Linked DNA regions of Homo sapiens: all the other regions are reported to be linked to region 6. Evidence: microRNA targets listed by miRTarBase, many of them from high-throughput screens and not tested one by one. Region 6 holds a microRNA gene; each other region holds the end of a gene's coding sequence.

Region 1 (4,096 bases), not on the chromosome of region 6:
CTCTATCAATAATGTGACCAGTGGAATCATTCATCATCATAGTGATCCTCTCCATCATTTTTGAAGAGTATTTTTCCTCAGTTTGTGCATGATTTATTTAACCCTTTTCAAAATGTTTTTGTTAGCCAGGCATGGTGGCATGTGCCTGTAATCCCAGGTACTTGGGATTCTGAGGCAGGAGAATCATTTGAACCTGGGAGGTGGAGGCTGCAGTGGAGGCTGCACCAGTGGAGGCTGCACCACTACACTCCCGCCTGGGCAACAGAGCGAGACTCCATCTCAAAAAAAAAATAAAAATAAAAAAATAAAGTTTTTGAGATGAGGTAGGTTTCATTGTTTTAGGATTACAAAGAATGCTGCAGCCACCTTTGTTGTACACATATCTGGTCATTGTGGAAATGTCTACACCGCAGATATTTCTATAGTGTAGGGAAGTTGATGCACTATCGCTACATTATAGGCTTTACATGATGCTTCTAATTTGAGTACATTCTGCAAATGTATCTTTCACGGGAGCCGTACCAAATAATATTCCAATAGCAATATTTATAGGAGGAAAAATGTGCAGAAGTGCAATTGAGCTTCGTGCCTCTCCATGGGGTCCATGTTCATAAAATGGTGGCATTAGCAATCATCTGAGAGTGGAGTTTGTGGCCCTCTGACATCAAAAGCTGAAGCAGAGGACATGAAAACCCTCACTGTGCATCCTCTCTAGTCTGGCCAGAATCATTCCTAGGTCGGTGGTCTCTTATCAGGAGGGAATGCTGCTTGCTTGTTTTGTCAAAATCACAAAACTGAGGGAAAGCATCAGGCCGTTGGTTGGTAACAGTGGTGAAGCAAGTCTTTCCAAAGGGCTGGTTTGTTGTTAACCCTTAGGGAAAAAAAAAGCCTTTTTTTTTTTTTTTTGAGACGGAGTCTCTCTCTGTCCCCCAGGCTGGAGTGCAGTGGCGCGATCTCGGCTCACTGCAAGCTCCGCCTCCCGGGTTCAGGCCATTCTCCTGCCTCAGCCTCCCGAGTAGCTGGGACTACAGGCGCCCGCCACCACGCCCGGCTAATTTTTTTTATTTTTAGTAGAGATGGGGTTTTACCGTGTTAGCCAGGATGGTCTCGATTTCCTGACCTCGTGATCCGCCCGCCTTGGCCTCGCAAAGTGCTGGGATTACAGGCATAAGCCACCGCGCCCGGCCAAAAAAGCCTAATTCTTACCAGCTGGTGCCGTGCAGTACCAGGCTCTTGGTGTCCCAAACAAAGACACCAAGAGCCTGGAACTGCACCAAAAACCAAAACCAAGGTAGGGGCAAGATGATAATCACAGAATGTCAACGGTATATGTTTAGGTTCAAATACTATTATGAGAAGGGGCAGGTAAAGGAGGTAGGAAAAAGAAAACACATCATGTAATTGACTGTTGTATGGAAATATTTGATGCTGAAAGTTATAATTTAAAACTATAAACCAAATATTAGAAGTGTGTCTAGTTCAAAGGGAGGAAAACCATCAAAAACATTTTTAGTGCAATATTTAACATGAGCTATACAACCCTTCCTAAATGCCAAAGGCACACACAGACACACACGCAGACACACAGACACACACACACTCACACTCACGAAGAATACAAATGACTAGAACCAAGAAATGTAAATACATTCTGCTACGTATGGTAAACATAGCCTACAATGTGGAAGAGATTAGAAAATAAACATGGAAATGAAATGTTTTTATTAATTCGCATCAGTACCCACCAAAACCAATCAGCATAATCAAATATTATAACACTGAATGTAAAAAACAATCCAGAAGTCCAGAGTGATAGGCAAAAGGTTTTAATTGTATAGATTAAAATTAACTTTGGACAAAAATTAAAACTCAGGCAGAGAATGTTTTCTTCTTTTTGCAACAGCAGACACTAGTAAAAACAAAGGCACAGTAAAAATTGAGACCCAAAATTTGCAGTGTAGAGATATGAATATAATAATAGACACAGGCAGGGAGGATTAATAAATGATAAAATGTTTAGAGGATGATCATTAGAATACAGGATATTTATACTCTTGAAAACCGCTTTCCCAAGTACTTCATTATAAGTAAGGTGTCTCTAAAAGGGACAGATCTCCTAGACCCCTCCTTAACCAAGTAACCAGTCCTGATATCATAATGGTGATGGACAAACTAGACCTTCTCTGCCCGCAGATGGGCTGAGGTTGGAAACTCACAGCATTGTCTCTGCAGTGTTCCCGGCAAAATGTTTAGGCTGAATTTAATCATGAAGACATTTTCAGACAACTTCAGAATGTAGATCATTGAGCCAGACAGCTGACCTGTCCTCTATAAACAAGTCCATGTCACCACCATCCATGACAACAACAAAAAGATGAGGAAATATTTGGGGTTCAAAATAACTAAAGAAATGCAGCTACATTATCTTTTTACTTTTTTTGAACCCAAAATATCTCTTCTCCTTTTTGTTGTGTGATTTGTGGTGATATGGACTATGTGAAGGAGACAGGTCAGTTGTCCTGCTCAGTGTTCTACATTCTGCAGTTGTCTGGTGATTACCTCCTATGAAACTCAGGCTAAGTGTTTTCTGCAAGAACATGGCATTGTTCATATTCTGCACCGGCAGAGTCCTGGGTGACATGCTGTCTCCTGCCAGCGGCTCCTGACTCCTGTTCTCTACAGGATGGAATTGAGAGGAGCAGGGCTAAGGCCTCCCAATGCTGTTTGTCCATCTAGCTGTGGTCTTCCTAAGTACTGACACCAATTGGAGGCTGAAGGACTGTGGCTTCTCTAACCAAAGGAGCCTAGCGGGTTAACAATTGTCAAGAGCAGTTGGTGGTTCTGAAATACAATCCTCAGCCAAGGATCCCTCCTGTGTTACAGATGGATCAGCTAAAACAAGCCAACACTGAAGACACAAAGAATGAGGTTAGGTTCATTGAAACCAGGGTAACACCTTTGGATGAGCTAAACACAAAGATGACAATGACCTTGAGCAGGTATAGAAGCTCAGAGACATGCCTGCAAAATGAAATCCCTGAGGAATTTTGTAGCTACCCAGAGATACGTGGTTCAAATTAAAATGTCTGACTGATCACTCCCGGCATGTTCTGCACAGTTATGTGAACGTGTCACACCTAACATGGGTCCATTGTCTTCAGATTGAGCACAGGTTGCCAATGGCATGGTTTGAGAATAGGAATAGAGCCATGCTCACTGACCCATCCTATGTCTGGGCTTCCAAATGGAACTGTACTTTCATTCAAATCTTCTCGTGCCTATAGGTCCTGCCTGCAGGAATGACATCTCTCGGCTTAGTAAGAGCTGCTTATTGTGGGAATATGACTCCCATCTGGAACACCAGGTGGAGACTTGTCACCGTCAAAGTAAAAAACCTATTGTCCACGTAAAGGGCGAAGCTGATATGCTCTTCCTCAAATGAGTAAAACACACTTCTGTAGTGCTGGAATGAGTCAGGTTGTTCAAAGTACATTGACGGAGTCGAATAACATCTATCCAGTGAGTCCTGTAAGACTTCAGGCTCTTCCACTTCCATCAGCACGCCGTAGAGCCTGGAAAAGGAGACAAAACTAAAGAAGCAGCCAGGGAAAATCAGACACCACAGAGCCCCACTAGATTTCAGAAGTAATATAAGGAAGTGGTTAGAAAAGAAAAAGGATAGATTCATTAATGAGGTAAAAAAAAAAAATTTATTGCCTTTATGTTGGGATAGAACAGGGCCAGGTAGAAAACAATGAAAGAGAAAGACAGAGAGAGAGAGACAGAGACAGAGACAGAGAGAAAGTGAGCTAGTGAATTGCCCAGGTGACATACTGGTAAGGGAGTAAAAGGACACTCTGAGTTAGTGCCCTCATGACACACAGCAAACTGTGATCACAAAAAGAGTGAGCTCAATAGTTTTCCATAAAATATGCTCAAAATTTGATGCAGTGGCCATCAGAGTACAGCTTTTGAAGTATGGTCAACCTATGGTACGTTAGTAAATGATAAGGGGAGGAAGAAATGGAAACCTAAACATCTACTGCAATGAAAACCAACAGCAATGACAGTAGGAGTAATTCAGCCTTCGTTGAAA
Region 2 (4,096 bases), not on the chromosome of region 6:
GTAAGGGTGTTTATTTAGGCATACCAGGATTTAAAATATTGCTATTCAAAAAGTTTCTAATCCAAAAGAACGAAAAACCCACTATCGTAGCATAGGGACAGCTAGACACCATGAATGGTCTGGAGTTACAATAGATCTTATGTGACTAACTACATTTTCTAAACCAAAAATGAGGCACATACTCTAAATGAGGGAGTTTTTGGACTTTCATTTCATCTGTATAAAAAGTCTTTAAAAACACAAGTGGAAAAATTATTGTACCTGTATATAATACATAAATGTACCTTTTTAATGTACAAAAATAGAAACAAAACAAAAAAACCTCTCCTGGAAACTGAGGGTCAATTTATAACCAGCAGCTGAGTGCTATACCTTACAGCAAGCAACATGGCAGCCTGAGACATTTTCTAGCCATTAACAACTAAAGTGAGTGAAAGGAAGACCTGTAGAGACACAAGGGTCAACCTTGTCAAAACAAAGTTTCTACATTTTTTAATGTGCCAAGACAAAAAGGGATCTGCAAGCCACATTCACTCATACTCCAAAATAGGCTTCATTTTTGTATTCTTATAAAACTTTCCCAAAGGAGGTATCAAACTTTTTATGCAGCAACCAAGTATGTATACCTTCATATTCATACATTACAAACTAGTAAATATTTACCTAATGTTTTATACTGTTTTAAATAACCACATCTTTGAACTCCCTTAATGTATGAGTATTTCTATCTAATCCTATTCTGTAGAGAATTCTAAACTAAAGGAAGTTTAATAGCTCCTTTTCATAAAGTGAAAAGAGAGCACAGGATTTTAGATTGTTTTTTCCTGACCAGAAATTAAAAGGGACACTTCATGAAAAATGACAAGTGACCCCAAACAGATTATGTTCCAAAAGTTTACTTGGAAGCTGAAACATGTTTTTCCCATAGGAAATTATCAGATGCCAAACTAGTGTATAAACATCTAATTAATCAATAATAAAAAATGGATAAAAATAGCAGAAAATTCACTACAATTCTCAAACAAAATATAACAAAAGAAATACTAATATGAATATTAAATACTGGTACTTCAGGAAATAATTTTTAATCTAATTTCTCTAATTAAACTTATGTCTAAAGCTGGGCGCGGTGGCTCACGCCTGTAATCCCAGAACTTTGGGAGGCCAAGGCAGGCGGATCACCTGAGGTCGGGAGTTCGAGACCAGCCTGATCAACATGGAGAAACCCTGTCTCTACTAAAAATACAAAAAAATTAGCTGGGTGTGGTGGTGAATGGCTGTAATCCTAGCTACTCAGGAGGCTGAAGCAGGAGAATCACTTGAACCCAGAAGGCGGAGATTGCAGTGAGCTGAGATTGCACCATTGCACTCCAGCCTGAGCAACAAGAGCGAAACTCCGTCTTAAAAAAAAAAAAAAAAAAAACTTTAAACTCCCAAAAGACATTCTGGCCACTGTTTTAGAGTTTCTGGAATCTGATAACACTGATTCGTGAATTTCCTTTGCTTTAGGCATGTTGTTTAACACCATTCACCTTTATTAATTAGTATTAAATGACAATGTTAAGAACACTTAGCCTAGCTCTGGCACAAAGTAAGCTCCATAAAAATTATGTGAGCAGAAATTATCTGAGGCTCACGGTAACTGGGTGGCAATTTGAGAAGAAGGCAACGAAAGTTAAGGGAGAATGTGTGCACATAAATGCAAAAAAGAATGACCTGAGAAAGTATCAACTCAGGTGTTTTTCCAACCCTCCAGTCTAGAAAAACCTGGGTTTGAGGTCCCTGGAAGGCAGAATTTGGCAAAAAAGTCAAAAGGTTACCCTTTGATTATGGTCCCGAAGCAAAGGGTAATCTTGTGAAGCAAGTGACGCTCCAGAAAACAGATGGAGGGCAAGAACTGAATACAAAGCATTTAGGTAGATGGAGCCAACCCGTTCTGGAAGAAAAAGCTGAAGTGTTTTCCTGAGGAAACGGCATGGAGATGAGGGCTATGCAGGCAGCCTTTTGAAGTGCATCTGTGGCTAAGTCTGTGGACCAGGTTGTTAAAATCACTGAATCAGTTTGACAGTTATGAAGATAAGGAAGAAATGAGCAGAGAATGGCACGTGTTGAACCTTGCTGAAGAAATAAAGGGAAGAATCATCATTGGAGTAATATAGTAGTTTGAAAATCTGAATAAACATTAGGATTTCTTCGGCATACCTTTAAAATGCAGAGTCCTAGGCCTGTCCCCATCCTTAAAGATTCTGATTGCATGGGTATGAATGATTATAATGTTCAGCCAGATTTGGGAAACACCAGATGAAAATTCAGTTCAATTATTAACCTCTGAAGTACAACTTAACTATAGGATATTGTCAATTTATATTATCTTAAAAAGTAACATCCTGATGCTGCTGGTTTAGAAAAGCCACATACATAAATCGCGTAACCACATATTTTCTGTACAATAAATATGTAAGTGTCTGAAAATATTTTTAAAACCACAAATCCAAAGTGACAGTTTTTTCAAATATGTAAAGAGCTTAAAAAAATAGATAACTGTGCTTTCAAGTTTTAAAATTTGAAATTTAGAAATTATGTCTGATATTGACACTATAAAGAAAACAAGATGCTGTATTTTTGTTTTATTTCAGAAAGTTCAAGTCTTTCCATCATAATTGAAGGAATTGCATGATCAATTAAATATTATCAGCATTATTTTCCATTAATGTTTTTAAATGCATTCACACACCTGAGTGTTTGGAATTATATAAACATATCCATTAGAGTCTAGTCTCATCAACATTTATATTATGCTTTTTCAACAGAATTGGAGATGAATCACTAGATAAATAGGTTACAAGATTATTTGGATTTTATGATGAATTGGTTTGCCGAACTTTAGAATTCATAGCAAGAATTAAATCTTTGAATTTGATTTTTAACAAAAGAAAATTGTGCATTGTGCTAATCTACTTTTGCATATTACATAGAAAATGGCTATTAAGGCTTTATTGTAAGGGATTACAGTAAAAGATATTCTATTGTGCACCATGCAAGATGCAGAAAATAATGGTTTACAAATAATGTTAAGCAACCAAGGCAATAATGGTTTTCCTTTCATTCTGGTTTTCCCAAATTAAATTTTTTTTTTTTCAGATTAAAATCAGGTTTGGAGTTAACAGAAAATTGCATTCCTAACTTAAAAACTTCAACTTCTCTAGATTCCTTTAGAAAAGGAATAAATATAGTTTAAAAAAATGTTGCTTTGGGTAGAAGTCTTGATTCATTGCTTCATTCTTACAGCTTTTTCTTTGCTTCCTTACTATAAAATAATCCAATGTTATTGTGAGGACAATCTCTGATTCAGTTCCAATGCTCTTGTATCTCCATGAGTTTTGGCATTGTTTACCAGCACCTATGGGAAATCACATACAGGAACGTCAGTATTTTGTTTATTAACAATATCTATATTTTGATTCATTGAAGCCAAGTAATCCAAGGGCGGCAGTCTTGAAAAGGCAACATCAAACTATACTAGGAAAAGTGACTCTGTGCAATCTTTCAGTCACTTTTGCAGATATAAATTGTTTAAACGAAGCTAACATCAGAGAGATGCACAATTCATTCAAATTAGTATAGATGCCAACATTCTGATTGCTTTTTTTTTTTTTTTTTTTGGACGGAATCTCTCTCTGTCACCCAGGCTGGAGTGTAATCGTCTGATCTTGGTGGCTCACTGCAACCTCCACCTCCTGGGTTTGAGAGATTCTCCCACCTCAGCCTTCCAAGCAGCTGGGATTACAGGCGCCCACCACCACACCTGGCTAATTTTTGTATTTTTAGTAGAGATGGGGTTTCACCATGTTGGCCAGAGGCTGGTCTCAAACTTCTGACCTCAAGTAATCTGCTGGCCTTGGTCTCCCAAAGTGCTGGGATTACAGGCGTGAGGCACTGCGCCCAGCCTGATTGCTATCGTTATTAGCACTGCATAAAATTAAAGGTTTTGTTTGTTGGCTTTGTTAATAATACTGTCACCTCTAAACTCTTACTCAAAAAGACTACTTTATGCATAGAACTGTTCAAATGAAATTGTTCCTCTTTGAAACCACAG
Region 3 (4,000 bases), not on the chromosome of region 6:
CTCATTCATTCAGCTAACATTATCAGTGGCCTCACGTACAGGCTCTGTACTAAGCAATGGGATTGCCCTCTGTGCCCATGGAGAACTCACCGTTTAAGTCTGTTTGGGACAGTGGTAGGAAGAGAGGTTTAGTAGGAGCAAGGGACACACTTAACAAGCGAATACATCACCTGCTTTTAATGTCTGATGTCTTTTCTTTAGGACGTCAGAGCCCAGGCCACCATTCCACTTCTGGGCTATGTGGTGGATGAAATGCCAAGGAGCGCAGACCTGCCACACAGTTTCAAACTGACCCAGTCTAAGTCCGTGCACAGCTTTGCTGCAGACAGTGAGGAACTGAAGCAGAAGTGGCTGAAAGTCATCCTTTTAGCTGTCACAGGTGAGACACCAGGTGGTCCAAATGAGCATCCAGCCACCTTGGATGATCATCCTGAACCTAAGAAAAAATCAGAATGCTGAACTCCTCCAGGACCAGCCATGGTGTGGAGGTCTCAGGACTTACAGCTCAAGACATTCCCAGCTCTTCTTACACATCTGCTAGCACTTTATGTTGAAAAATATAGGCCCATAAATGCATCTTTTGAGGACTATTTTCCTATGTTTATGTACTCTTAGTGAAATTAGTGTGCAGAGTCATTCTACCGATAAAGTTTTGAAATAATGTGAAAACTGGAGCATTTTTTGAGCTATTCCTTGAATATGTGCTTTTTTGTCTTGAAGAAATGGTGTATCAATTGATTCTGTCACCGTCAGGTTAGAATGAGCACTTCCATTTAAGAAATCCTTTCATGTCTTCTTCTCTTTCACATGTAGGACCTGGAACAGTTTGAAAGATATACCTCCATGTTGCCAAAATAGATCCATGGTGAAAAATACAGGGACAGTTGAGGCTATTGTATTAACTTATTTAATTTAGTTTATAAATCTCTAGCTGCATAAATGATGTCTGTTCTTTTAAAACAAAAGAAAAAGGACAAATTGTTGGTGTTCAGATTTCCGATTTATAAAGAAAAGATAACTTGTTTTTGTAGAAATACTCCTAAGAATGTCTTAAGTATATAGCAATTATGTATATATAGTATTAAATATATATATTATACATGCTTTTAGGTTCACATTCATCTCTAATTTATTTTTTAAATATAAAGCATGGTTTATCGTGGAATTGAGCAATGTTCTAAACTGAAGAAATGTTTTGGTGATTTATGTTTTGCTGATTGGCATTTGAGGGTATTGATATTTTTATAATAAGCGGTAATTTATGTGGCATGGGATATATTTGTGAATTCCAACAGTACTTTTAAAGTACCATTTTTTGTTTCTGTGCCTATTTAAAACAGTGCCTCTCTTAGAAGGTGCTATTAATATAAGATGAGGGTTCAGTTAATGCTTCAGTCTTGATTATTCTAAGATTAAAGTGCATTTTGGTCACTGGGACAGTCAAAGTCATACAGGTTATTTTACCGTTTACAATCCTATAATTATTGCAGTAGTTAACATCAGCATGTACAAACATTTTCACCAAAACCCAAACTTTATGAGACACCTGACCTTTTACAGAACTAGGATATGTGGAAACCACATTTATCGTAATGTTTTTCTTTTCCGTAAGATAATCGAGCATGGTTAAATAAGGTCTCTATATAATGAACACTTAAGATAACTGTATGGGCCTTTTCCTTTGTCGGAATGAAACAAAATCCACATGTGATAACCTATGTTTGGGGTGGGGGCTGGTCACATGATTCCTTGTCATGAAGGCTGCTCTTCACTCTTTTGTACTTGTGATTAAAATCTCACACTAAGTTTACTATTTAACTTAATCCTTTTTCTCAAATTAAACCTTTTTTTATACTGTCATACCCCAAACATTGTCACTTTTTAATGTACCAGTCTGCTAGAAATCTACAAGAATGATCCCACTATCTTTAGTATGTAAGGATTACACCTTAGATATAGAATAGAATTTGAGACTGCCACACATTTATTCAGGCCTTGTTACTTTAAGAAATATCTTATTTTTTCCACCCCAAAGGAGCAAGTGAACCAATTATTGCTGACATAATAGGTTCCCTTCCTCCATAAAAGGATTATCAGCCATGATCATTAACATTAAACCAAATAGATGGAGCCAAAAAGAGATAAAAGTAGCTTCTTAGGCCCTATTAAATCAGGGAAAGACTAGAAGAAAATTTACATTGCTTCTCTTTTTTAATGGCCAGCGGGGTATGTGTGTGATGTATACTCAGAGTGGTTTTTTGGAAAATTAAACTGTAGCTATAGATGATGCTTTGGTTTTCTTAATCTCAAGAAAAGAGAAGCAATGGAAATACAGAATGATTAACTGGGGAAGAGGACTTTTGTAAGTGTGACTAGAACAATGGTAATGTATGGGCCAATGGGAAGATTTATAAGTCAGATTATTTTTGAAAACTATTTTTAAAAGCAAGAAGACTACACTTTCCCTACCAAAACAGAAGTAACATGGACACACTTAAGTTTTGGCTCAATAAATATCAATGTTATTTAACTTAGATCATTGAAAGAATACTCATGTAAAGATAATGTTTATTATCATGCTCTTAACAGTCATTATCTTTAATTTTTTAAATGAGAAGCATTAATACTAGAAGAGAATTTCTGGTTATCCGGTCACCATATTCACTTTCCACCCCACATTCTTCAGCTAAACGCAAAGAGAAGCAGTGAAACAGCCTTACCCGCTTCTCTCTTATTAAAGAATCACTGATGTTTTTACTCAATGAAAGGTAAAGTAATACCCTTAGCCATTTATTAAACAATTCAACCAAGAGACCTCAAAGTGTGATTGATGATAAGAATAATCAATGCCTTTTCCCTTCCAACATACTTGAGCAGTCATGACAACCTAAAAATATCATTGGTTGCTTTCCCATTAAAACCAACGTTCCCTGTGGGTCTTAATTCTTTATTTTCACTCATTTGGTGCTTTCCAAGTCATCTTTTCTTTAAAGTGCCCTTCCTCCAAACTTTAAAAAGTACTTCCTTGACAAAATTTCTATTCATTATAAAACATTTCAATATTTTAAGCTTAAATTTTGCTTTTGCTGAAAGCCTACCATTTGGCGTGTTAAGTATGAAATATAGTGCAGACTTTTATCTTGGTTTTAAGTGGGGCTCAATAAAAAACACCAGCCACTTTTGTAATAATGGCATCACAGTGTCATCATGTATGCAAGCAATAAAACTCTTTAGGGTATGGTTTTATACTGAAAATTTAATATGAAGGCCCCTTCCCACAAGAATATAGATAATTATTAACTTTCTAGATGTGATACGGTAATTCGAATTGCAGAGTATAAGGAAGGGAAATGGGAAGGGGCATCATTCCTTGGATTTTAAATAACTATCAAGAACATTTTTACTTTAACAAAGAAAATGGATAGAAAAAGCACATTTTGTTTTCCCTGAAGTTTAATTTGACATCAGGTTTGTGTACTTATCTTCACTAGGTGACTTAACTTACCCCAATTTTTTTAAAAATTATTAAACTTTTTACAGAAACTAACCTTTTAAATGTACCCTTTCCCCATATATATATACGCACACGTTTGGATTTTTTTTTTTTAAGAACACTTGTTCTAGTTATAAATATATAAAGAAAACGATAAAGTTTGTGGTACTGCAGGGTTGTTAAAGATTCTTTGATGCCTTCTAAAAACTTTTGTCAAAAATACTTTTGAGTTCACAATTCTGTTTTACTTTTCCTTGTCCTTACTTTTTGGAAACAGGGTGGTTGCTTTTATTTGTTTTCTGGTTATATTCAAAGCCTTAAGTTCTTAATCTGAGCATATTGTCTGTGATAAATTTCTGATGATCTTTCTGGACTAGATACAACCTGAGTAGCAAGCACCAACCGGAGCAAGTAAACTTCTAGGGAACAAGCGTCTTGGGTTTTATAGGTATCTTTGCTATAATGCAGAATAGATTAATGAAGATTTCCTATATCATATGATATTTG
Region 4 (4,000 bases), not on the chromosome of region 6:
CATTCGCAAGGTGGTTCGACAGATAGACTTGTCCAGCGCCGATGCCGCCCAGGAGCACGAGGAGGTGACTGTAGAGGGGCCCCTGGAGGATCCCAGTGAGCTGGAGGTCGATATTGATTACTTTATGAAACACTCCAAGGTACTGAGGCGCCCGCGGCCCTGGGGGACCCAGCGCCATCACTGCTGCCTTGCTCTGCCGGGCCGTCTGCATGACACCTCCCTCCACTCACCTCTTTATGAGCTCTCTCTCCAGTCTCTCTTCTCCCTGGTGGGCAGTGTGTCTGCCACCTCCGTGTGGCCTCCTTTCGATCTTCTGCCTGTGTTCTGCCCGTCTTTGCGATCTGTCCTGCTTTCTGTCTCTGCTGCTGTCTGCAGGTGGAGCTGAGAGGGAGTGGCCTACAGCCGGACCTGATAGAGGGCAGGAAGGGGGCGCAGATAGTGAAGCGGGCCAGCCTGAAAAGGGGGAAACAGTGACCCCGAGCCGCTCTCCTTGGAGTAGCCTCTCGGGAGGTAACGCTGCCCTTCTCATCCCCTCTGCATGGCCTGGTCTTCAGTGGAGTGGCTGCTCCCTGTCTCACCCTATCCCCTCCCAGCCACCCCAGCATGATGTGGGACAAACAACTTGTTGTTGTGTCTCGAGGCAGAGATTCTCACTTCCCAACCCTGCTAACAGTTGGCTCTGAACCCCAGCTTCCTCATCAAGGAAACAGAGTTAATAATATCCACTTATCAGGGACCGCACGGTTTTGTAAGAATGCCTTTTGGGCCGGGCACAGTGGCTCATGTCTGTAATCCCAGCATTTTGTGAGGTCGAGGCAAAAGGATTGCTTTAGGCCAGGAGTTCAAGACCAGCCTGGGCAACAGAGCAAGACCCCATCACAAAAAAAAGAAAAAAAAAAGCCAGAAAGAAAAAAATGCTCTTTGAAAAGTAAAAGCACTCTGTAAATCTAAGTGGTAATATTATCTTGGAAACCAAGCAATGGGGATCTAGAAAGCAGTGGACAGGGCATTGAAGAGGACAGGAGAGTTGGTCTGGGCTGTGATGCTTCAACATAAGAGCTCCAAGACTGAGGACTGGACTGTCTCTTGAACCTGGAGCCCAGCTACAGTTCTCACCAGGCCAAGGCTTAGCTTCTCTTTGGTGTTTTGTGAAACACGTTGCTCCCTTGCTTTCTAGGAAAGGGCTGAGCCGACAGGCCTAAGGGGTGGACGACGTGCTTTCTGCAAGTCAGGAGACCGTCAGGGTTGGGGCCGGGGCCTGGGCTGTGGTGCATGTGTGTGAGCATGGGGCAGTGTGGCCACAGAGCAGGGGCATGCCGTGCCGTGCCGTGCCATGAGGAAGGGACATGAAGACGCTGTGCGACCATCTCCAGCAGGTGTGTGTGGTGCTGGGGGCTTCAGCGGCCGGCTCTGATCTCCATCCTCCCTGGGGCATCCTGTACTGAGCTGCCCCGAGGCCCTTCATGCTGCCCAGCTCGGGGCAGCTCAGTACAGGATACCTCGGGGTGGGAGTCAGCAGGAGGTGAGGGGGCATGGTGGCCCCAGTGCAGCACTAACCAGGCCGTTACCATTCACACCCCAGGGCCTGACTCTGGGACCGAGCAGCAAGGAGGCTCTAGCTTTCTGCATTCGGCAAAAATCAGGGCCCGCTGCCTCCTGAGCCACCAAAAGTGCTGACTCTGGGCTTCCCAATATATCTCAGCACTTGGGCAAAAAAGAGGACTGGCAGATCCAGTTATAGGATAAAATTAGACCTGACACCTCAGCAGCTTAAGGAGGTCACCGTGTTAACCCCTGCACTGCCAGGGGTCCCACTAGGCTGCTGGTTTAGAAGACTCTGAGTAGCTGCTGTTGGGTCCTGGAAAGAACCCAAAGATGCAAATAATGTTTAAAAGCAGCAAAGGGAAAGGAAAAGTACACTTTTCTGACTTATTTTTCTTATGGTAGCAGTGGCGGCTGTGGCTTTAAATTTCTCTTTGGCTCAGGCTCTATGGATGCTCCTGAGTGGGAGAGAGGCAGCCCGAAAGCCAGGCTAGGGGGAAGGAGGGAGCCTTGAATTTCATTTTAATTTGCCGTAAGTGATCTGCAATGTGGCTGAAGCCCCCCAACCTCAGGTGATTAAGGACCGGACCACACTAGCATGGGTGTCAGAAACACGGAGCAGCCTGGCTCTGGGACAGCACTTGGCCCTCTGTCAGTGACAGGCACAGGGACAAGTGTGAGGGTGGCAGGGGGGTGGGGCGGTGGGGCGAGAGCAGTGGTGAGGGAGAGGCGGAGAAAAGCTCCTGCCAAAGTCCCAGAGGGTTAGGGGACAGCATTAAATGCCCTACCCTCCCAACCAGGGCAAAGGCTACAGAGAAGACGGTTGAGGGCCCAAAGGCTTCCTAATTTACTATCCGCATCCCCGACAAGCATGTACAGTCGATCCTCATCATTCACGGATTCTGCATTTGCGAATTCGTCCACTCGCTAACATTTATCTGTAGCCCCAAAGCTGGCACTCACCGTGCTTTGGCTCATTCATGGACACACACACAAGGGCAGAAAGTTTGAGTCGCCCAACCCGTGCAATCCCAGCTGAGGATGAACAATGCCACACTCTGCCTCTGTGCCTCATACTATAAATAAGTGTCCTCCTTGCAGCTTGTGTAGTGCCACATTTTTCACATTTTTGGTTTCATTGTTTAGAATGGCCCCTGAGGGCAGTGCTGAAGTGCTGTCTGGTGCGAAGTGCAAGAAGGCTGGGATGTTCCTTAAGGAGGGAATGGACATCAGATAAGCTCTGCTCAGGGATGAGTTAGAGTGCTTGTGGTGGTGAAGTCAGTGTTAATGAGTCAACCCTATATATTACATAAGGCGTCTTGAAACAGAAACGCATTTAACACAAAGTTATGTATTCATCAGTTGACCAAAATATTGTGGCCAGAGGCTCATGGGAGCCTAACCTTGTATTTCCCTTAGGAGCAGTGGTTCAGTATTTGCTAATTCCGTGTTCACAGCGACTATTTATTTATTTATTTATTTATTTATTTATTTATTTATATTTTGAGAGGGAGTCTCGCTCTGTCGCCCAGGCTGGAGTGCAGTGGCACTATCTCGGCTCACTGCAACCTCCATCTCCCGGGTTCAAGTGATCTTCCTGCCTCAGCCTCCTGAGTAGCTGGGATTACAGGCATGTGCCACCACCCTTGGCTAATTTTTGTATTTTTAGTAGAGACGGGGTTTCACCATGTTGGTCAGGCTCGTCTCGAGCTCCTCACCTCAAGCAACCCGCCCTCCTCAGCCTCCCAAAGTGCTGGGATTACAGGCATGAGCCACTGTGCACAGCCTCAAACAGCGACTAATTTATAGAACAGAGCTATGGCAAATGGCTGTATTTGTTTCAGAGAGTGAAAGCTGGAGCTTGTGAGTCTAGAATCAAGGCCTCCTCCTGCTTCCAGGTTGTATGGCCTTAAGTCATTTAACCGCCCTAAGCTTCAGTCTCCTCAAGGGAGGATGAAAATGTCCCTTTCGAATGTGCTACACTTCAAGAAAAAGGTTTAGAAATAATAATGGTAACTGTGAGCACTGATGTGAAGAGAGTAAATAAGAACATATATGCTCTGGGACTCAAACAATTGCAGGTCTTGTTTGTAGTGTGACTCGGAGCAAGTCAAATGACTTCCCTAAGCCTCAGGTTCCTTAGCCATAAACTAGCAATAATGCCAGCATTTCCCTTGTAGGATGGTTATGATGGTTGCTGAGTTTATGTTTGTGAAAGGGCTGTCTAGGGCCGGGCATAGTGACTCATGCCTGTAATCCCAGCACTTTGGGAGGCTGAGGCAGGAGGATAATTTGAGATGAGCCTGGGCAATGTGGTAGGACCCTGTCTCTACAAAAAAAGTTTAAAAATTAGCTGGACATGGTGGCATACACCTGTAGTTCCAGTTTCTTGGGAAACTGAGGTGGGAGGATCGCTTGAGCCCAGGAGTTCAAGGCTGCAGTGAGCTATGATTATACC
Region 5 (4,096 bases), not on the chromosome of region 6:
AACCTTGTCAGTACTAAAAATATGAAAATTAGCCAGACGTGGTGGTGGGCACCTGTAATCCCAGCTACTCAGGAGGCTGAGGCAGAAGAATCGCTTGAACCAGGGAGGCGGAGCTTGCAGTGAGCTGACATTGCGCCACTGCATTCCAGCCTTGGCGAGAGAGCCAGAGTCTGTCTTGAAAAAAAAAGAAAGAAAGAAAAAAGAAACTATTTTTATTATGACATTTATTTGTATTACAAGGAACCAATGTTCTAAGGGACAATCTCTGATAAATGCTGCTGTGTGGCAAATAAATGCTGCAGTTCTGAAGGTAGAAAGTTGAGCAGTAACTGTAACCCGTTTTAAGTGTACCCAAGGAAATGAATAAGAGACACATCTCAAAGGTTCTTTTTGTTTCTTTATAGAATGAATATTAAGTACTTTTCATGAGTTTACCCAAGAGTAATAATAATTCTAGATTTTAGCCCTGTGAGGCCAATTAAAGATAATTTTGATTATTAATGTTTCCTTCTCATTTTTTTTTTAAATAACAAAGCATCATAAAGAAATCCCAGTCAAAAAAAAATGCTGCTGCCTGGAAAACATAGTGAAACCCTGTCTCCATCAAAAAATATTTTAAAATTAGCTAGGTGTGGGGGCATGTGCCTGTAGTCTCAGCTACTCAGGAGGCTGAGGTGGCAGGATCACTTGAGCCCAGGAGGCAGAGGTTGCAGTGAGCTGAGATGGTGCCACTGCATTCTAGCCTGAACAAGAGTGAGACCCTGTCTCAAAACAAAAACGAAAAAAAAAAAAACAAAAAACCATGCTTATACAGAAATGGGAAAATGCTACAAAGATATTGCCATAGTACTGAAAGCACACAGCATAACAATCATTAATGCTTTGAAGCATTTTAAAAACAGTAAGGGGAATGTCAACATAAAAAAGAACAACTACGAAAAGGTGAGAAATGATCAAGTTATCTCTGGTCTCTTAAAAGAAGGAGTTCTCAGAACTGGTCTGAAGGGGGTCTTCTCCAAATGACAGAGTTGATTAGCTCCATTCTCTTCAGCCCCCTGACATGATGGCATCTAGTGTGAATATGGGAGCTCACCAGGTTCTCCCAAGGACAGGGTGGCCCTGCAACAGCTACGCCTGTCCTAGAGACCATACCCACGCAATCTCCTTCATTCCCTCTAGGCCAGCTTCATCAGAAATCATGTTTTTAATGGCACAGTTATATGTCAAAAAGGAGGAGAAAAGGAGCCCCTAGTCCACCAAAACAAGTGTAAAAAGGTCGCAGGAGGGGAGGAGGATTGACACTGATGTTCTTAATATCTGAGTTGGCTGAAATTTGTAATAAGTTTTTCATGAGAAACCATATTATAATGGATGAAGAGCTTTTCTAATTCAGCTCTATCATTAATAAATAATTATAAAGACATTACTATGAAAATATACAATCATTTATAACATTATTTTCCTAAAAAATAAAAAAGCATTTTGTATTCTAAATACTGTACACTAAGTATAATAATTAACATATTGGAAAATGACAGACAAGCTGCAGCGGTTTCCTAAAGCCTTAGGATTCCCTCTAAGGTTTATTCATGGGCCCTCTAAGATGATAGCATGGCCTTTTTTTGGTTCAATATTTTCACAACTTGTTCTGCCTATTTTAATTCTTATAACAATTCCTAATTTAAACATTGTTAATCAGCAAATGTCCTAAGTCTTGATTCAGAAATCTATGGCATAGGTAGAATGAAAAAATAAATACCTTAAATAGAAATACTTTTTCCCTAACTCGTTTCTTTTTTCTGTTTTGCAACATAAAAATATACATTTCAAAACATTTAAAGATATCTGGGAAACTGCAACAGAAAAGGCTTGTTCCCATGTGAGTCTGAAGGGGCCAGTTACGGTGCAGCAAGGCGAGCCTGTGGCTGCAGGCACACAACACAAACTCCACAAACTCTATGATACTGTCAGAAGGAAGTTCAACCTATTCTACAGACTCACACTGACCTGAAAGGACAAAATTAAGAAAAAGATATGCCTCAAAGAGCAAAATAAAGAAAGATAAAAAAACTGAGCACCCTTTACAATGTTGTAATAAAATATTTATTAATTTCTCTTTATAAAAATTTGGGAAAAGATAAAAGGCAAAACTACACATAGAAAAAGGTCAGTGATAAGTGTTTATACAGTCAGTTTTTTCTGATGTGTGAAAAAAACTGATAAAAAAATCCTTTGAGGTAATATGAAAGTTCATGATTCTCATTCCATCAACATCACTGTTTGCTACCATAGCTTCTTAGTTGTCCAGCTAGATTTTATGCTATGAACTGATGCATGAGATTTCATAAAACATTAATACCTCTTTTTTATACTACAGTTCTTTCACTGGTATACCATAAAGTAGTATTACAAATAAATTATGACTATACTTCATCATAAATAGAAATTAAGAAAGTACACTTTGCCAAACTGATTTCTGACTTTTAAATTGTATTTATTCACTCCCCACCAATTTGAAAAATCTTGTAAATTACAGAGGGTTTCCTAGTCATTAACATGAATTAGTAATGCTATAACTTAATTCAAAAGCAATTACTTCTTAAAAATAGGGCGCATACCAGGAAAGCTTAGCATCAGCCAAAGCTACTAGCACACCACGGGCAAAAGGCCAACTCTGCAGGGATATGTAAAGGTCATTTTATGGATAATCCATATAAAAACTGCTCTCAAGATATTTTGCCCATTAGAATTTGTTTACAAATGGAAATCTAATTTGATGATTTTAGGCCTTTGTGCTAGAATCTCACAACCAGAAAGAATAACACCTTTAATATGAATTCTTATGATATTGTCAGAAAGTTTAACAGGAGTTATTTTAACTCCTGTTAAAATAATAGATGACAGTAAAAAGAAATTCAAAGGGAAAGAAACAATATACGAAAAAGCTATGGGGTAACAGATGTTGAGCCTACAATTAAAAACTATTTATTTTAAATGTTTTCCTATGTATAAGACAGAAATACCAAGCACTTTCTACTTTTGTGTTGTCAGAAATCCCAGGAAAATCCAGAAATGAAAAAAAAAAAGTGAAGGATAGACATGCATCACATGCATCTAGCTGGTTGACTGAGAAAACCTGAGAAATAGCACTAAAAAGGATAAGATAGCATTATTGCATACTAAAGAAATATGACAAATACCTGCAAACACTTTTTTTATTGAAGCTCTTGAAATAATACACCCTGACTGTCTAACAAAACCAGTGCTGAAAGCTGATAAATATTGACGGTGGCACCTGGTGATTTCCTTCCAGCTCAGCCACAGCAATGACTCTGGATGCCATCAGCACTGCCCCCACAGGCATATGCTCTCCTCTGGGTATGTGGGAAGTTGTGCGACTGGGGACCAGATTGCTGCAGGTGCTCTCAACATCACTGGGAAGAGCTGCCAGCCAAAGGAAAAAAATGAAAAAGGAGAATGCCTTCCTATGCTTTTCCACAGATATAATCACTATTTCATGCCTGCAAAACCTAGAAAAAAAAAGAAGCTCCTTTGTTCCAGATAACCTGTCAATTCGGAATTCCAAATACCATTTTCCTTACAGGAGTAGAATATACTATATATCCATATCCATCTTCTTATTGAAGCCTTGATGAGATTTTAGCTTAAAAGGAGAATCAGGATCCAGATGCTGAATGGTGCTTCAGCAACCTCACATGAAGTGACTTTTGGGTTTGCCACATAGTCTGAGTTTCTTCGTTGTGAGCAGCTGGGCCAGGCCATTGAGGAACACCAAAAAGATGGTCATGGACATGACAATCACATAGTGGCTGATGCTGCAAAAGGAGAAAAAGATGTTACAGGCAGAGAGAACACAGGTGAGGAAAATCATGAGATTCCTCTGAATGGTTTTAAATGGACAGATGAAAATCTCCACTTTCAGGAGCTGGAGTGGGTGTTCTTTACCTTATTCCTCCTGCTAAGTACAGCTGTCTGTTGGTATCTGGTTCCAGGACCTTCAAGTACAGCTGTCCATGGACTGGTTCCAGGACCTTCCACGAATACCCAAATCTTTGAATGCTCAAGTCCCTGATAT
Region 6 (4,096 bases):
TTAGCCATCATTTTTTAGACATCAGCTTTATGTAGCTTAAAGCAATGCTTTCCATTAGAACTTTCTGTGTTCTGTATTTATAATGTGTAATATGGTAGCTACTAACCACATGTGGTTATTAAACACTTGAAATGGAAAATAAGGCTAAGGAACTGATTGAATATTTTATTTTATTGTAATTCATATGAATTAACATTTAAATAGCCTCTCGTGACCAGTGCCTACAGTATTGGATAGATCAAACTCAGATTATTAAAACAGTGATAGCCAACCTGTATGTAAGAGACCTGCCTCACTCAGGTCAACTCGAACCACATATGGTCAGTTTCTGGTAGTAAAAGAGTCTATAGATTTTTCTGAACAGTATTTCCTGCCCTGGATCAGGGGTCACTAGGTTATGGTAGGCCAAAGATAGGACACTACAAAAGACAAAGAGAGGGACTAATTCTGTCTGGAGTGAACTGGTGAAGTTTCTATGGAGTGTTTAATTTAATAGAAACCTTGAAGCATGAGTGGGAGCTCATCCGCAGCATGGTGGGCTCACCGGAGCCTGGGCAAGTGCTCATGCGTCTAAACTGCTCCACTGGCCTCCACCTGCTACTATTTATCACGCTCCTTTGTACAGGGTTAATAAAAGGACTAAGCTGAAAGACCACCATTCTAATTTGGAACATCTGGAGACATCAGAAGGCCCATTAGAAGACCCTAAACTTCTAACTTTTTCTTTCAAATACTCTGAAACGAAATCCACCAACTTATGAATACTATCATTTTTTTGGTGGTGGAATTCCACAGGACTCCATTTTGTTCACCATTCTTGAAGCATCAGTAAAATAATAAAGATGATTCCCACTCCCTCTTTTTTTTTTTTTGAGACGGAGTCTCACTCTGTCGCCCAGGCTGGAGTGCAATGGTGCACTCTTGGCTCACTGCAACCTCTGCCTCCTGGGTTCAAGCAATTCTCCTGCTTCAGCCTCCTGAGTAGCTGGGATTCCAGGTGTGCACCATCACACCCAACTAATTTTTGTATTTTTAGTAGAGACAGGGTTTCACTCTGTTGGTCAGGCTGGTCTTGAACTCCTGACCTCGTGATCCGTCCACCTTGGCCTCCGAAAGTGCTGGGGTTACAGGTGTGAGTCACCATACCCGGCCCACTCCCTCTTTTTTCAGAGAAAAAACTGGAACCTGAATGAGTGACCTTGTAAGTGAGTTGCTGGCAGTTTCTACCTTTGCAGAGACCAAGTTCTTCCATCTACATGGCCTTGTGTTGTCCTCCCAATACCCCAAGGCATGGATGTTTTCTTCATATTTCACATGAGGGAGGTGACTGTCTCAGAGAGGTACAGTGAGCAGACCAAAGTCTCAGAGCGTGAAGGGCTCAGCTTGAGTCCCTGCCCAGGGTGCTGTCAACCCGGAGGCTAGAAGAGCTTGTTCCTTGACAAAGCCTCAGATCTGAGTGCCCTGGGTTCCCCCTGGGCCATGACTTGGTTCCTTACATTGCTCTGTGTTGCAGAATTCATGCTGGACTGCACCGTGCCTCCCCCAGGGAGTGCAAAGATAGCCCTTGGAGGGGAATGATGGAGGAGGAGGCAATCAGGTAATGAGAGGCCATTCTGAGCTTGTGGGAATGTAGTGCCCCTGGTGAGGCTACAGGAAGAAAGTGAGCATCCCTGGGAATCTCACATGAGGAAGGCGAGACCAAATCCCTGTACTTACAAAATGATCTAGGAAATATGCCTCAGTTGGCAGGCATGATGACTTCTGAGCCCTTGTGTTTGATTCTGTAGAAGAAAAATATTTTCAAATATTAACTAGTGAAGTTTTACTTTTAGAGATATATATTTTTCTTTCAATTACTTCCACCATTAATATTAGACCATGAAGCTCATTTCTCTTGCCATAGGGAAGGCAGAACCTCAAAAAACTCAATGACACCAAAGAGTTATATTTATGCTTCTGCATTCCAATGTAGAGCATTGAAAGATGTGGAATTTAATTGCAAGGGCTAGTCTCTTCAAAGAGAAGTGGTTGCCTAATCCCCAAAATTCACAGCAATTATGTTGGCAAGTAATGTTTTAAAGCTTACATGGATTGTCTATTTTAACCTCACTATTATTGTTCCAGTCTTAAGGATGAGGAAGTTGATGCCCAGAGAGAGGTTAATTAGCTTGTCTAAGATCACTTAAGGTCACTTAGCTAAGAAGCCAGGATTTGAGCCCAGGTGTTTGGCTTTGAGCCCATGCTTAATCACTCTGCACATTATCTCATGCTGGGTATTCTGCTCATGGTAGGGAATACAGCAGGGAACAAGACTGCCAGGCTTCCCTCAAAGGGCTCATTGGTTGAGTCTTCCACTGTGAGTCTTTTGAAATTTCATATGGGCCTTGCAAAGCAGGAAAAAACAAGAGTACTTATTTTACTCATGAGAAAAAGAAAGTAAAAAAGAGGGAATTGTCTTACTCAAGGTCATAGAAAGACATAGTTGCAAGATGGGATTAGAAACCATATGTCTCATCAGCACCCTATGTCCTTTCTCTGCCCTGGGAGCACACTCCATTTAGCAGGCTTGCGGCTAGTGTTAATGTCTGGACAATTAATCAAAACTTCCTTTGGGCTGGATCTCCAGAGCCCAAGAACACTGGTGGCCAAAGGATGGTGTCTTGTGAAAGGAGGGCAAGCAAAAGTGTAGGACAAATTTTGCTTTGGGATTTTGGTTACACCTGCAGGTACAGTGTCCCTGGGATAAGGGTGGATTCTGGGTCGGGGGAAGGTCTGTGGATAAAGGCATTTGTGGGTGTGTTCAGAGAGGCAGAGTCAGAAATTCACGGATATGGTGATGGGATGTGGTGATTGGGAGGGGAGGAGGGCTTTTCTAATCAGGACTTTTATGGAAATTATCCTTGGTCAAGAGAAGGGGCATGTTGGCAACATGGCCACCAAGGAAAAAAAAAAAAAAGGAGAGATCCAGCACAGTTGCTGGTAAGGGACTCTTCTGCTGGGCTCCCACCAGCAGCTCTAGGATCAGACCTGGATATGAGATATCTCTTACCTGTTGCGCTTTTGAAATGTTTCTGATGAACAGACTATCCCACAGAAGGAGGAACAGCACTGAAATCCTTTCTCGCAATCTTCCTGCATTGTACACAGGTGAGTACAGTTTTCAGGTGCTGATATGCAGGGTGGAGGTTCCAAGATATACTCTGGAACACAGAACAAGTAAGAGAAGGGCCTCACCAACAGGCTGGAGTAATGTTCAGAACTCAGAAAGCCCAGGGAACTGCCAGGAAACCTGCCACCCTCATCTGCCTTGCATGGTTCCAGGGTGGTGGCATCAGGTTTTGTCCTCAGCTGCTGCCTTCCTCTGAGTTCTGAGCAGGGAAGCAGGGCATGGATATTTTTTGATCAAGAACAGAGTTTGGTAGAACCCTGCACCCATTGGTCATTCACCATCCTTGTAGTTCAGATGCCAAGCCCCCATTGACTATGGTTGTGTCCATATCAAGGGTATCAATGGTGTATGTGGTGAACAAGAAAGAGGTTTGTATGTTCGTTCTGCACTGATTCATTGTGTGGTCTTGAGCAAGTTGTAGAGCTTCTCATTAACAACATAGTTTACCCTGGGGTTAACCTAACATGGGTTATTTGTGTACAGGAAGAATGAGTGAAAGGTAAGTTTTGGTAAAGGATGAAGACCATGCATTAAACTGAAGGTACTGGATCAGAGAGCTGGGACCCAATTCACAAGTAAGTTCTGGGAGTGACTTCTTTCATGGTAAGAAGGGTGGGGATTTCAGAATGGCGTTCAAAGATTCAGCTTTTTTCTTCCTTGGTGTCTCTCGATCAGGAGGCCAGAGCACCAGGATGCCCCACTTTCTACTGTTAGAGAAGAATAAGCATCATTATGTTGACTTCCTATTTCCTCCCCTACCCCCAAGTATTTCAGTTCAAAGCTAAGACCTACCTGCCCTGGGAGAGTCTTCCCTAAGTCCACAACCCACAATCTCCTTTCTATTCCTGGACTCTAAAGATGGGCCCCATTAATCCCTTTCCCCAAGCCCTTCCAGGTCCTAATTTTTGTACCTTGTGATTCTCCCTT
Region 7 (4,085 bases), not on the chromosome of region 6:
TATTAAACTGATTGAAGAAGTTTGGAAAATAATTGAACTTACATATGTACCTTTGCCTTTTAAATTTTTTATTTTTTAAAATTTTCTTTCTCTAGTGTTCTTTTGAAGATGACAACATCCGTTCCTTATTAAAACCTTTAGAACTGGAACTACAAAAAACAGTGCATACATACTGTGGAAAAATTTACAAAATATTTATCAAACAACTAGCAAAAAGTGTAAGAGATCGTTATGCCAGATCACCAAAGGAAAAGTGATTCTTGGTGACTGCTTAATCAAATGGATGAAAACAAAGAATCAGAAGATAAGTGTGAAGGAATCGTCTTGGATGAAGTATTCAGGAAGGAATTACTCATCTCCAGAATAATTTTTTTTTTCCTAAAGAAGTTAAGTAAGCAGTATTTTCAGGTAATGAAGAATAAGTTAAAATCTTGGGCCTCAACATTGAACATTTTTTATCTCTGATGTTTTGTAATGTTACTTGCTATCATTCCAGTATTGATGAAAATACTATTGAATGGGTTTAACCTGCAGACTTCTGTTGACTCATACTCTCAAGAGTGGTAGGGGTGTGTAGATGGAGAAAATGTACCTCAAACAGTGCCAACACTCAAGACTGTGAGTAGAGCAATAATTTTATGTCAGCACTAACCTCACTTTAAAAGTGTGAGAAAAAAGTTTGTTTACAGGAGCAGAAACAGGTCTGTTGTTTCTGAAGAAATGTGATGTAACTGATGTAACCATTGACAATCTATGTGTGCCTTTATACATTTCATCTCTGTTTTAAAATATTTTTATGACAATCATGTTTAAAATTATTTTTAGATTACAAGTAAGCTGCATGTTAAAAATTGAGCTGTGTAAGGTAGAGGAAAAATAGTGAAAACTTTGGGATTTTAATCTGTGTGTGCGTGTTTGTGTGTGAGAGAGAGTGAGAAATGTAGTGTTTCATTTTGTATGCATTAAACTGTCTTGCCAAAACTCAGATCTAAGATTGTTAAATAGATATTTGGGGAATTTTTTTTTAATCACTTTAAATGAAAAACGTCAGCTTTACTGGGCATTCTGGAAGCAAAATATATTATGCTGATGGTAAAGTGAGAACCTTAAGAGTATACTCATGATGGTGGAAAGTGTGATGGACCAAAATGCATAAGCTATATACTTCCTGTGAGTAGTAATTTTAGTTACAATGGAGTAGAAAAATATGGTCCATTTAAACTTGTCTTCTACCTCATAACGGCCTTGCAAGATACTTTTGAAGAAGCAAATGTCTAGAGCCTTACTTTAAGTAAGTTAAACAACTTAAGTGGATGATTTGGAATAAGATTGTTACATCCAGCTGTAGAAAATGTGGTTTTAATTGGGTTGATGTGCATTTTTGAATATCACCTAAGACAGTTAATTTTTTTAAATCTTGAGAAATTACTTCTTTGGCATTCTTGACCTGTTAGCTAATATAACTATAGATTCTGAATACTTAGCATATACTATGCTGGGGCACATATCTTATTTTACCAACAATATGATTATCTATATGGTTATCTTCTTTTTCTCCCTGATATTTTAATGCTCAAGTAGAAAATGGAAAATCATGAAGGAAAAATACAACCTGTGAAAATTGTGGCAGTTAGCTTTGTGAAGACACAGTGACCTCTGTGGAGACATGGAATATGCAGAAAGAGATGGTTAGTACAGTTGTTCTGTCGTCTGCAGTTCAGTCAGGGACAAATTGAGAGAGGAAAGTTTAAGCAGGGTGCATTAGAAGTTGATAACCAGTCCAGCATTCTTAGAACAGATGGGTTTAGAGAACACGAGTTGTAGTTCCTTGGCAGAATGCCATGGTGAATATAAGAAACTGTGAAATTGAGCTTACTGAGTAGAAAATGAGAATACTAAAAATGTGAAGTTTGGAGGGTATGTATTAGATCATTTCTAATGGTCCTCAAATAATGATCATTGCCTGCCTGACTATGTAAGATTCTTGTTGGGAGCTTAAGAATAGATTCCTGAGCTAGGCCTTTGGAGACTCTGGCATGCTGTGTCTAGGAGGGAGTCTGTAAAACAATTTTTAATGAAGAAATTTAAAAATTACACAAAACTAGAATAGTGCATTGGTACTCAACATCCAGATCTGACACTTATCACTATCTTACCATGTTTGCTTCATTTGTCATTTTTTTGTTTGCTTAAGTATCTTAAAATCCCATACATTGTGTTATTTCACTGCTGTGAACACTTTGGGTAGATACCACGATATCACACCTAACAGAGGCAGCAGCAGTCCTTCGGCTTCATCTCATAGCCAGTCCTTAAGCAAATTTCCCTGATTATCTCAAAAATCATCTTCTAGTTGGTTTGTTAGAATCAACAGAATATAAGTCACATGATGATTTCGTTTTTAACAATCACCTCAGATGACTTTGATGTTAGCTACTTTGAGAACCACTGGAAATTATTTTGCCAACTTGAAAGTTCAAGTTAGGATACCACAATTCTTGGCACGTTTGGTGGATTATAAATGTGATTTTGAAATATTAGAGGAAGCATTTGGGGTTAATGACAGGATATGAATTTATATTAGTAAGTTTGATAAGATAAAATTTCCTCAGTGAACGGAGAATCTCAGCCCCATGGGCTCTAATTGATTGGGACTTGTGTAGAGCGTGGTCACAGTTTAATCCAACTGGACTGTATGCTGTGGTCTCACTCATGTTGTGGCTTATTTACACTGTCACACACACTACATTGTGGATCAGTTGGAAGGTTCTTCATCTGGTTTATTTAGACCTGACCTAATTGATCATTTTACCATAAATTGAATTATAGTGAAAACTGTCTTTTGGGTACTGTTTCTACCTAAAATTAAAGGTATCACAAAATATGTATAATAATTTTTAAATGAATTTTCTGAATTTATCTTTAGACAAGGTAATTCTTTTGAATTCTAAAGAAATGCAGTTCTTGGAGTTGATGAGAGGTTAAATTATAGATGGACAACTTAGAGAACGTATTCCATCTTCATATAAATGGTCTTTCATAAAACATAGTGTATCTATGCAGTTTATATAAACTACATGATTTATTATTTGAGTCTATGTATTCTGACCTCAGAACTATCTCTGGGCTACAGTATTACCAAAGTGGGATGCCTTTAAAATGCAGTCAAACTTCATTTGTATGAAGTAGAAAAGAACTTGGGAAACCTTTAAAAATATATATTGTGATTTATGCTTTAAGAAAATGCATACTTTTTTCTAATGAAGAGTAGTTCATAATATATAAGGGTTTTAAGGCCCTGAAATAACATTAGTGCTTACTCATTGCTCTCTCATCTTGCCTCCAGTCAGATGTTATTGGTATAGTGAAAAGAAGACCAGATTTTGAACTAGATCTGGATTCTCTTTTTAGTAACTCAGGCATGTTATTTACCCTTCTCTGTGCCTTAGGTTTTTAAGTACAATCAGTGTACCCTTCAAACCTCACAAGATGAAACTCAGAAGAGATAATGGATTTGGAAGCATTTTGCGTGGCTTATATTATGCCACGCCAGTGTTACTGTTGAAGTTCTGTTTTGTTCGTTGTTTTCTGTACAGAGCGTTCAGTTTACTCAGGCTGAATGTTTTCTGACATATATCTCCAGTATGAATTTGTTTATGTAAGGAAGAGTTTTTCAGGAAGAGAAAGTAGAGAAGAAAAGAATGATGTAACTAAATCAAAAAAGAAGGAAAAGAGAGGAAGTGAGAAAAGGGGTGAGGAAAGAGAAAGGAGTAAGAATGGGGATGGCAAAGGGCAGAGTAAGAGAAAAGATGGAATGAGTGTATGGAAAATTGAGAAGTAGAGATGGAGAGAAATGGTGTGGAAACATTTACTTTTTGAGTTGTAGCCCTCACACTACATCAGTTTGCTTGCCTGGGCTCTCTGGGGTCAGGAAAGGTGCTGACTTCCATGGAATGGGGCAGCAGGGCCTGCTGTATTTGGTTTGTTAGTACTAGAGTTGTTTCCCAATCACCCTACTCACTGATCATTTAGTGCCAATTCAACATTTTATGTCTTTTTTTTTTAGTGGATCCCAGTTTGTGAGC

The links. Region 6 holds the annotated microRNA hsa-miR-3617-5p (AAAGACAUAGUUGCAAGAUGGG, at 2,473-2,494, shown strand). A microRNA usually pairs through its seed, bases 2 to 8, with sites in the 3' UTR of a target mRNA and lowers its output. Matches are read on the target gene's strand: a 7mer-m8 pairs with bases 2 to 8, a 7mer-A1 pairs with bases 2 to 7 and ends in A, and an 8mer does both.
Region 1: the mRNA of NBPF15 is a reported target of hsa-miR-3617-5p. Seed matches in the 3' UTR shown: 7mer-m8 at 2,270-2,276.
Region 2: the mRNA of SKIC3 is a reported target of hsa-miR-3617-5p. The part of its 3' UTR that is shown has no 7-base or 8-base seed match.
Region 3: the mRNA of FGD4 is a reported target of hsa-miR-3617-5p. Seed matches in the 3' UTR shown: 7mer-m8 at 789-795 and 8mer at 1,046-1,053.
Region 4: the mRNA of ANK1 is a reported target of hsa-miR-3617-5p. The part of its 3' UTR that is shown has no 7-base or 8-base seed match.
Region 5: miRTarBase lists PIGN as a target of hsa-miR-3617-5p. Seed matches in the 3' UTR shown: 7mer-A1 at 3,010-3,016 and 7mer-m8 at 1,418-1,424.
Region 7: miRTarBase lists GXYLT1 as a target of hsa-miR-3617-5p. Seed matches in the 3' UTR shown: 7mer-m8 at 4,050-4,056.

The regions. Positions count from the first base shown.
Region 1 is chr1:144,419,685-144,423,780 of GRCh38, forward strand. It overlaps NBPF15 (NBPF member 15), which reads right to left. Exons shown (of 22, transcript NM_001385408.1): 22 at 1,706-3,572. The coding sequence ends at 3,329. Among named protein-coding and RNA genes, the nearest start is that of TRN-GTT3-1, 2.5 kb to the left of the region's middle.
Region 2 is chr5:95,461,282-95,465,377 of GRCh38, forward strand. It overlaps SKIC3 (SKI3 subunit of superkiller complex), which reads right to left. Exons shown (of 43, transcript NM_014639.4): 43 at 2,613-3,400. The coding sequence ends at 3,326. Among named protein-coding and RNA genes, the nearest start is that of FAM81B, 72 kb to the left of the region's middle.
Region 3 is chr12:32,640,075-32,644,074 of GRCh38, forward strand. FGD4 (FYVE, RhoGEF and PH domain containing 4) reads left to right here. Exons shown (of 17, transcript NM_001370298.3): 17 at 202-4,000. The coding sequence ends at 459. Among named protein-coding and RNA genes, the nearest start is that of DNM1L, 37 kb to the right of the region's middle.
Region 4 is chr8:41,657,940-41,661,939 of GRCh38, reverse strand. ANK1 (ankyrin 1) reads left to right here. Exons shown (of 43, transcript NM_000037.4): 41 at 1-64; 42 at 376-510. The coding sequence ends at 474. It overlaps MIR486-1 (microRNA 486-1), which reads left to right and starts at 1,432; the gene lies at 1,432-1,499. MIR486-2 (microRNA 486-2) reads right to left here and starts at 1,496; the gene lies at 1,433-1,496.
Region 5 is chr18:62,042,144-62,046,239 of GRCh38, forward strand. It overlaps PIGN (phosphatidylinositol glycan anchor biosynthesis class N), which reads right to left. Exons shown (of 31, transcript NM_176787.5): 31 at 1-3,836. The coding sequence ends at 3,713. Among named protein-coding and RNA genes, the nearest start is that of PIGN, 140 kb to the right of the region's middle.
Region 6 is chr20:45,703,548-45,707,643 of GRCh38, reverse strand. MIR3617 (microRNA 3617) reads left to right here and starts at 2,464; the gene lies at 2,464-2,542. WFDC10B (WAP four-disulfide core domain 10B) reads left to right here and starts at 2,625. Exons shown (of 4, transcript NM_172006.2): 1 at 2,625-2,726; 2 at 3,083-3,147. It overlaps WFDC13 (WAP four-disulfide core domain 13), which reads right to left. Exons shown (of 4, transcript NM_172005.2): 2 at 3,050-3,200; 3 at 1,717-1,781. The coding sequence ends at 1,739.
Region 7 is chr12:42,083,958-42,088,042 of GRCh38, reverse strand. It overlaps GXYLT1 (glucoside xylosyltransferase 1), which reads left to right. Exons shown (of 8, transcript NM_173601.2): 8 at 96-4,085. The coding sequence ends at 257. It also overlaps the pseudogene LOC101929308. Among named protein-coding and RNA genes, the nearest start is that of GXYLT1, 59 kb to the left of the region's middle.